Homo sapiens: one gene and its partner. The protein of the gene in region 2 interacts with the protein of the main gene of each other region in a pairwise test. Each region holds a gene or a part of one and is shown on either strand. Other genes may lie near its edges.

Region 1 (3,752 bases), on a different chromosome or scaffold from region 2:
AGACCCTTTAAATGTAACCTTTCAAAAAGGTAAAAACCATTCTTAGTTCAAGCACCATTAAAAAAATAAGACCACAGGCTATAGCTTGCTGACTCACGATTTAGGCTATTCTCTCATCTTGTCCACAGCATATGATAAAGAAAAAACTGATATACAAGAGACCAAAACACGTGAGAAATAAATACATACCTTATCTTTTAATAAAATTTCATAAGTTGTTAACAATATATTAAATTTTAACCGTTTGGTCTGATGATGCGTCCATTCATGAGTTCTTATCTATTAAGAAATTTGAAGGACAATTTTTAAGACAAACATCAAGCAAATTATACTTTTACTTACATATCTAAAAATTAAAATCCATTCAAATATGTAAGTAACTATTAATATATGTTTATGTAATAAAAGAGTTTTTGTGGTTTTTTTTTTTTGAGACAGAGTTTTGCTCTTGTTGTCCAGGGTGGAGTGCAATGGCGTGATCTCGGCTCACCACAACCTCCACCTCCCGGGTTCAAGTGATCCTCCTGCCTCAGCCTCCCGAGTAGCTAGGATTACAGGAATGCACCACCACGCCCAGCTAATTTTGTATTTTTAGTAGAGACAGGGTATCTCCATGTTGGTCAGACTGGTCTCGAACTCCCAGCCTCAGATGATCCACCTACCTTGGCCTCCCAAAGCGCTGGGATTACAGGCATGAGCCGGCATGCCCGGCCAGAGTTATTCTTTATATAGTCCAAAATGCTATGTAAATCTTATAAATAAAACATAAATACCACAGCATTTCTTAAAAAACGAAGTAAACACAATTTTAAAGCACATCTTTCACAAACGAAAAGGTCTTATTTAAGAAAACATAAGTGATTAATTCATTTAATAATGTAATGTTTATGGATGAAATATGATGTCTGGGGTTTGCTTCACAGTAACTAGGAAAGTCGTGTGTAGAGGTATAGACAAAACAAAACTAGCAGTAAATTTGTGAAACTTAAGAACATGAGTGTTTATTACATTCTTCTGTCTGTTCTCATGCATATTTGAAATTTTCCATTAAAAATGTAAAATAGGCTGGTATGGTGGCTCACGCCTGTAAATCCCAGCACTTTGGGAGGCCAAGGCAGGTGGATCACTTGAGGTCAGGAGTTTGAGACCAGCCTGGGCAACATAGTGAAACCCCATCTCTACTAAAAATATGAAAATTAGCCGGGCCTGGTGGCAGGCGCTTGTAATGCCAGCTACTTGGAAGGGTGAGGCAGAAGAATCACTTGAACCTGGGAGGTGGAGGTTGCAATGAGCCGAGATCACACCACTGTACTCCAGTCTGGATGACAGAGTGAAAACAAAAAAAAAAAAACCCACCAAAAAAACAGTCAAATATATATACTAAGTAACACTAAACCAAAACTGACTTTGTTACAGTCAATTAAACATGTACTGAGAACTTATTTGTGGCAAGTTCTATACCAGAAACAAAGACTGTTATACAGACCAAAACAAAACAAAACCTCTCATCCTTGTTAGGCCAAGAACGGTGGTTCATGCCTGTAATCTCAGCACTTTGGGAGGCCAAGGGAGGCAGATCACTTGAGCTCAGTTCAAGACCAGCCTGGCAACACAGTAAAACCCTGTCTCCACTAAAAAATATAAAAAATTAGCCAGGAGTGGTGGCGTGCTCCTGTGGTCCCAGTTGCAGTGAGCCAAGATCATACCACTGCACTCCAGCCTGGGAGACAGAGTGAAACCCCATCTCAAAACAACAAAAACACTTGATCTCAAAGACAAGTACATTTTGATTTCTACATTTACAGGGAAACAACTTACCATGTTTCTGCTGTTAATGTCACCTAAATAAACCACAGCATTCATTTGAGAAGCCCAAGTCTGAATTTCCCTTTGCCAGGAAGTAAGAGTGGAGAGCGGTACTACCAATAAAAAAGGTCCATATAATTGATGTTCATGAAACAAATAATTCAGAAATGAGATCGTCTGTATTGTTTTTCCAAGGCCCATTTCATCAGCGAGTATGCAACTATTTCCTCTACAAAGTTAAAAAAAAATTAGCATGCAAGGAAATATTCAAATATACAAAGAAACCTTTTTACATCATGTGTATATGTTTTTATGAAGTTAAATAAAATTGATAGGTATTATATAGAATATACCACTTTTATTAACTACAAATAATAAATGTAAAGGTATCTGGCTAAAGACTTAATCACTAATGCTGTAAGAAAAGTAAAAGGAGATGACCGTTTTGGGCCAGAAGAGGCTTAAAGATTAATAGTATTATGTTTAATCAATTATGAAGCCAATAATGCAATTCATCTACTAGTAGTAGAGTCCAGATATATTAAATAAGTAAAAAGTATATAGGAAGAACACAGATTAAAAAAAAAAACTATAGCTAAATTGCAACCGAGATTCACAAAAGTAGAGTGGGGGCCATAGAAGATAGAAAAAAAATGTAGAAGAGTAAATGGATATTAAAATAACTAGGAAAAAGAGAAATATTCCAGGAATAGCATGGGATGAGAACAGATATGCATTTTGATTTTTAAACTGAATAAAAACATATTTTAAAAAGGCAACAATCAAGTTAAACTCCAACTCCACTGGATTTTCTTCCTAGTATGTAGTAAGTATTGTTTATACAAACTAGGAAATACAAAGACTAGCATATAAACTGCCAAAGAGTCTTATTCTTTATGTAAATGGAAATCTTTTCTGAATCCTGTATTGGTAAATTCTTACTCTGTCAAATTAAATAGATGATTCAAAATATACTTACTTGCACCAAGAATGAGCAAGCCAATTTAAACCATTCAGTTGATAATCTCTTAATTCTAAGCCCTCATGTCCTCCAATATAGGATGGCTGCTTCTTCAGGGCTACAAACCTTGGCCTTTGTTTTAATACCTTTAGTAGAAATAAACATTATTATGTAGAGTTATTAAATATAAGAAATTATACTAAAAGATGAAAGCCTCAGCTTTACCATAAATTCTTAAATTTCATCTCTAATCATCAAGCTCAGAGATTCCATTACTCAAAATGTACCTGAGGATTCAGTCAATACTGTTTTCTACTACTCTACAAAAATGAACAGTGAAATATTTTGCCTTCTTTTTTAAACAAAAATGTATAGAGAAAATTAACTTCCTGCCAAAATATGAGTCTCATGTATTTCACAAGCAAAACCTACGTTAAATTGTTCAAAACCATCACTCCAGCCTTAAGCTACAAACCATAAAACTGGCTTAGCTTACCGTTCAATTTCTGAATTCCAAGTTATCCCTATGAAGAATGTAATTCTTGTAATAAGGAAAGAAAGTCTAGTAGTCCATAGATCTCAACACATCACTAGTAACTCTGGGTAAGTTACAAGGATGCAGAAAGTATTGTGCAAGGTAGTTCTGGATACTTTCCTATATCACTCTCCTTTTTCTCTACCTTCTAAGAAAATATCCACTATCTTTAAAATTGAGCATATCTCTAGTTTCCAAGGGTTTTTTTCTGTTTATTCTCCCAACCCTTCCTGACAATCACCATAACCAACTCATCTTTCTGACATAGTGATGCTCAACAAGATAAAAGACAACACTTAAGAAGATACATTGACGAAAACATCATTTACAATTTTTTTAAGAGAAAGTTTGAAATAAAAAATTATAAAACTAAAACTAAAAAACACACAGCAATTGCAGAAGTTCACTTCCTGTAAGACCTATTAACCAAGAAATATTCTCCCTTAGTCT
Region 2 (3,752 bases):
AAATAAAGGGCCATATCCTTGGAGTCTAGAATTCTCCTTTCACTAAGTTATCAAAAATTATATTACTTTGACCACACAAAGGTATTTATCTCTGGTTCGTGCAAACACTGAATGTTGGAAGTACCGAGTGATAATTGGAAATAAAAATCTCCAAACGTCTAGTAATAAAAAGACTGATGGGCTAAATTGTGTATTTATTCATACAGAAGATTATTAGCCTGTTAAAAAACAGTGAGATTTTGTATAGCAAGATCACGGGTTTTTTTAATGAAAAAAATATGCATACAGGTGTGTGCACATACCTATATATTTACTTTTTTCCCCCTCTCACTCTGTGCCCAAGCTGGAGTGTAGAAGCACACTCATGGCTCACCGCAGCCTTGACCTCTTGGGCTTAAGCAATCCTCCTACCTTGGCCTCCCTAGTAGCTGGGACTACAGGTGTGTGCCACCATGCCCAGCTCATTGACTTTTATTTAACTTTTTGTTTTTCTAGACACAGGGTCTTGCTCTGTAACCCAGGCCTAAGTTTACTTTTAAACATTGTACATACACACACAGTCTGGAGAAGTATGCCTAACTTTTAGTAGTGGGCTGTCCCGACTGTGAACAACTTCTGCTTTTTACTCCCATGCACGTATTTTAAAACCTGCCGGGCGCAGTGGCTCACAACTGAAATCTAAACGTTTTGTGGGGCTGAGGTGAAAGCACTGCTTGAGGCCAGGAGTTCAAGGCTGCAGCGAACTATGACTGCGCGACTACCCTCCATCTGAGTGACAGAGTGAGAACCCACCTCAAAAACAAAACAAAAACAGCAACAAAAGCCTGTAGTACAAGTATTTGCTTTTATCAGAAGAAAAAGGAAAACAAAAAAGGAGATCCACAGGCTCTGTTTTTTGCTTTTATTATTTCTTTCTCCATTGATTTTCCAGGACTCTTTGCCTTGGCAGAAGTATACTTGAGTAAAGGCAAAAACACGCAATGTATCATGAGCCACAGAAGTGACTTCATTCTGCTGTTCTCCCAGCACTTACCCCAAACACTGTGGCTGACACTGGGGCCTGACTCTCAGATATTTAAACCCAGTACTTCACCACCAAGTATTAGTTATTATCTCATTTAGTTTTGGGCCCTGAGAACCAGGCCTTCAATTACAGGTTGGGCAACCCTATCTGAAACTGAAACCTTCTGAGCACTGACATATTGCCACAAGTAGAAAATTCCACACCTGATGTGTGGAATTAGTGAAAGTTTTGTTTCATGCACAAAATTATAAAAAATATGGTATTAAATTATCTTCAGGTGTATAAGAAACAAATTTCTTGTTTAGATTTGGGCCCCAATCCCAAGATTATCTCATTATGCGTACGAAAATACCGCACAAAATCCAAAAAATGAAACCCTTCTGGTCCCAAGCATTTCAGATAGGGAAAACTCTACATGAACCAAGAGAACATTCGGTCTACAAGCCCAGCTTCAGCTGATTCTTTTTTTTAGGGGGATGGAGTCTTGCGGTCGCCCAGGCTGGAGTGCAGTGGTGCGATCTGGGCTCAGTGCAACCTCCACCTCCTGGGTTCAGGCAATTCTCCTGCCTCAGCCTCCTGAGTAGCTGGGATTACAGGAGCCCGCCACCACACCTGGCTAATTTTTATATTTTTAGTAGAGACGGGGTTTCATCATGTTGGCCAGGCTGGTCTCGAACTCCTGACCTCAGGTGACCAGTCCGCCTCAACCTCCCAAAGTGCTGGCATTACAGGTGTGAGCCACGGCGCCCTGCCTCAGCTGATTCTTTCTTAAGCCAATAGTTGAGTGTTACCAAGTTAAACCATTGAAGGGGAAAGAAAGATAAACAAGACACAGCCCTAGTCCTCATCAATCTGCTCTTGACAGAAGGCAAGATGACATAAATATTAAACCAAGGGGTAAGGAACTATGCCACGGGAGGACAGAGGACCCAAGGAGACGAGTTGCTATTGGTGGGATGGATCAGTTGTCTTTTGAGGAACTAGGTCTCTAAGGCAGACAGATGGGGAAGGGTGGGCGGAGCGAAGTCACAGAGAACCAGGAGAGTAAATCACGTGTTTGGGGCCTGACTAAAGCACAGGGTGTGGGGGATGGGCAAGAGAGATTTCGGTAAGATGGTGAGAGTCATGTCATGTGGAATGTGACTTTTACTGTATAAGCTGCTTTTAAAAGAAATGTTAAAGTGACAATTCTGTTTTTGCCAAGTGCTGTTTATAAGGGATGTTATTTTCTCCAAGTCCAAGCAATAGGAGGCTCAGGCAGTCCTACTTTTTGGACTCCATGTTGGAGTTCAGTGGTGCCATGATAGCTCAGTGCAACCCTGAACTCCTGGGTTCAAATGATCCTCCCGCCTTAGCCTCCCAAGTAGCTAGGAAAACAGGCGTGCCTCGACGCCTAGGTACTTTTTTTTTTTGGCAGTGGATAGAGGCAGCCCAGGCTGGTCTCAAACTCCTAGACTGAAACCATTCTCCTGCCTTGGGTTCCCAAAGTGTTGGGATTACAGGTGAGAGACACTGTGCCCCGCCCCCACCCCCCTTTTTTTTAAGAGAGACTGGGTCTTGCTCTGTCACCCAGGCTGGAGTGCAGTGGTGCAATCATTAGGTCATTGCAGGCTTGAGCTCCTGGGCTCAAGTGATCCCCCTCCTAAAACTCCCAAGTAGCTGGGATCACAGGTGCATGCCATCATGCCTGGCTAATTTCTTTTTGGTGGGGATGGGGGTCTCCCTATGTTGCCCAAGCTGATCTCAACCTCCTGGGGTCAAGTAATCCTTCCGGTTCAGCCTCCCAAGCAGCTGGGACCACAGATGCATGCCACCACACCGGGCCTTTAAAAGTTTTTTTGTAGAGCTGGGTTTTGCTATGTTGCCCAGGCTGGTCTTGAACTCCCAGGCTCATGTGATCCTCCTACCACAGCCCCGAGTCGCCTGGAATTACAGGCACACGCCACTGTGACTGACTCCCAAAAGACTCCTTATTTAAGGACCGCTGACAATCTACAGAGGAAAATGAATAAAGGACAAATACTCCTTCCATCCTCCATTGGAATTCCCAGATACCAAGAAAACAAAACACAGTAGAGAGATCTTGAAAGAAAATGCAAAGCTTCGCTGAAGGCTCCCAGTTCAGAGTGGTTCACAAGTCCAACACACAGACAAGTAAACGAGGCACATTAGCAATGTATTCGTTTTGAAGAAAGCACTTAACATGAAACTTGCTTATGAAATCCTCCATACCTTTGCTAGACCTCTTTGATGTTTTCTTGTTTCCCTCGGAGGTAATTTCAATTTCGTCAGGATTACCACCTTCATCTTCAATTGCCTAAAAAGAAGGGAAAAGTAAAGTTGATCCAAAAAGTCAGCTCACACACTGCTTTCAGAGAGCTCTCAGGTGACAAGGAAACTGTATTTTTAAGATCAAAAAGCTGCTGCCGCCCTCACCACCCAGGACCTGTGGCCCATCCACTCATCTGTTATCTCGCTCTACACTGGAGACCGACTGACGCCACCAGTTCTTAGCTGGGTGGTCCCAGGCAGGTTTACTTAGGTGCTCAGTTTTTGCTTCTTCCTCTGGAACATGCGGCTAATAATAATACAGTACTTACCCTGGAAGGCTGTTGTGAGGACTCTACTAGCCATGAAAAGGAAGCACTCAACAAACAGTAGGCTTATCTGGTTCATCTCCTTCCTAAGCCCAGAAGAACTCAAAAAGGGAAAGGCACACTCTCCATTT

What was found. Proteins that work in one complex are often made in the same cells at the same time.
Region 1: the proteins of SAFB (region 2) and CHD1 interact in a two-hybrid assay, tested with the Homo sapiens proteins (one study listed by BioGRID).

What each region holds. Positions count from the first base shown.
Region 1 is NC_000005.10:98,894,408-98,898,159, forward strand, and holds part of CHD1 (chromodomain-helicase-DNA-binding protein 1), read right to left. Parts: intron 2,914-3,752; coding exon 2,786-2,913; intron 2,036-2,785; coding exon 1,819-2,035; intron 280-1,818; coding exon 190-279; intron 1-189. UniProt on the Homo sapiens protein: ATP-dependent chromatin-remodeling factor which functions as substrate recognition component of the transcription regulatory histone acetylation (HAT) complex SAGA. Regulates polymerase II transcription.
Region 2 is NC_000019.10:5,625,994-5,629,745, reverse strand, and holds part of SAFB (scaffold attachment factor B1), read right to left. Parts: intron 3,342-3,752; coding exon 3,257-3,341; intron 1-3,256. UniProt on the Homo sapiens protein: Binds to scaffold/matrix attachment region (S/MAR) DNA and forms a molecular assembly point to allow the formation of a 'transcriptosomal' complex (consisting of SR proteins and RNA polymerase II) coupling transcription and RNA processing.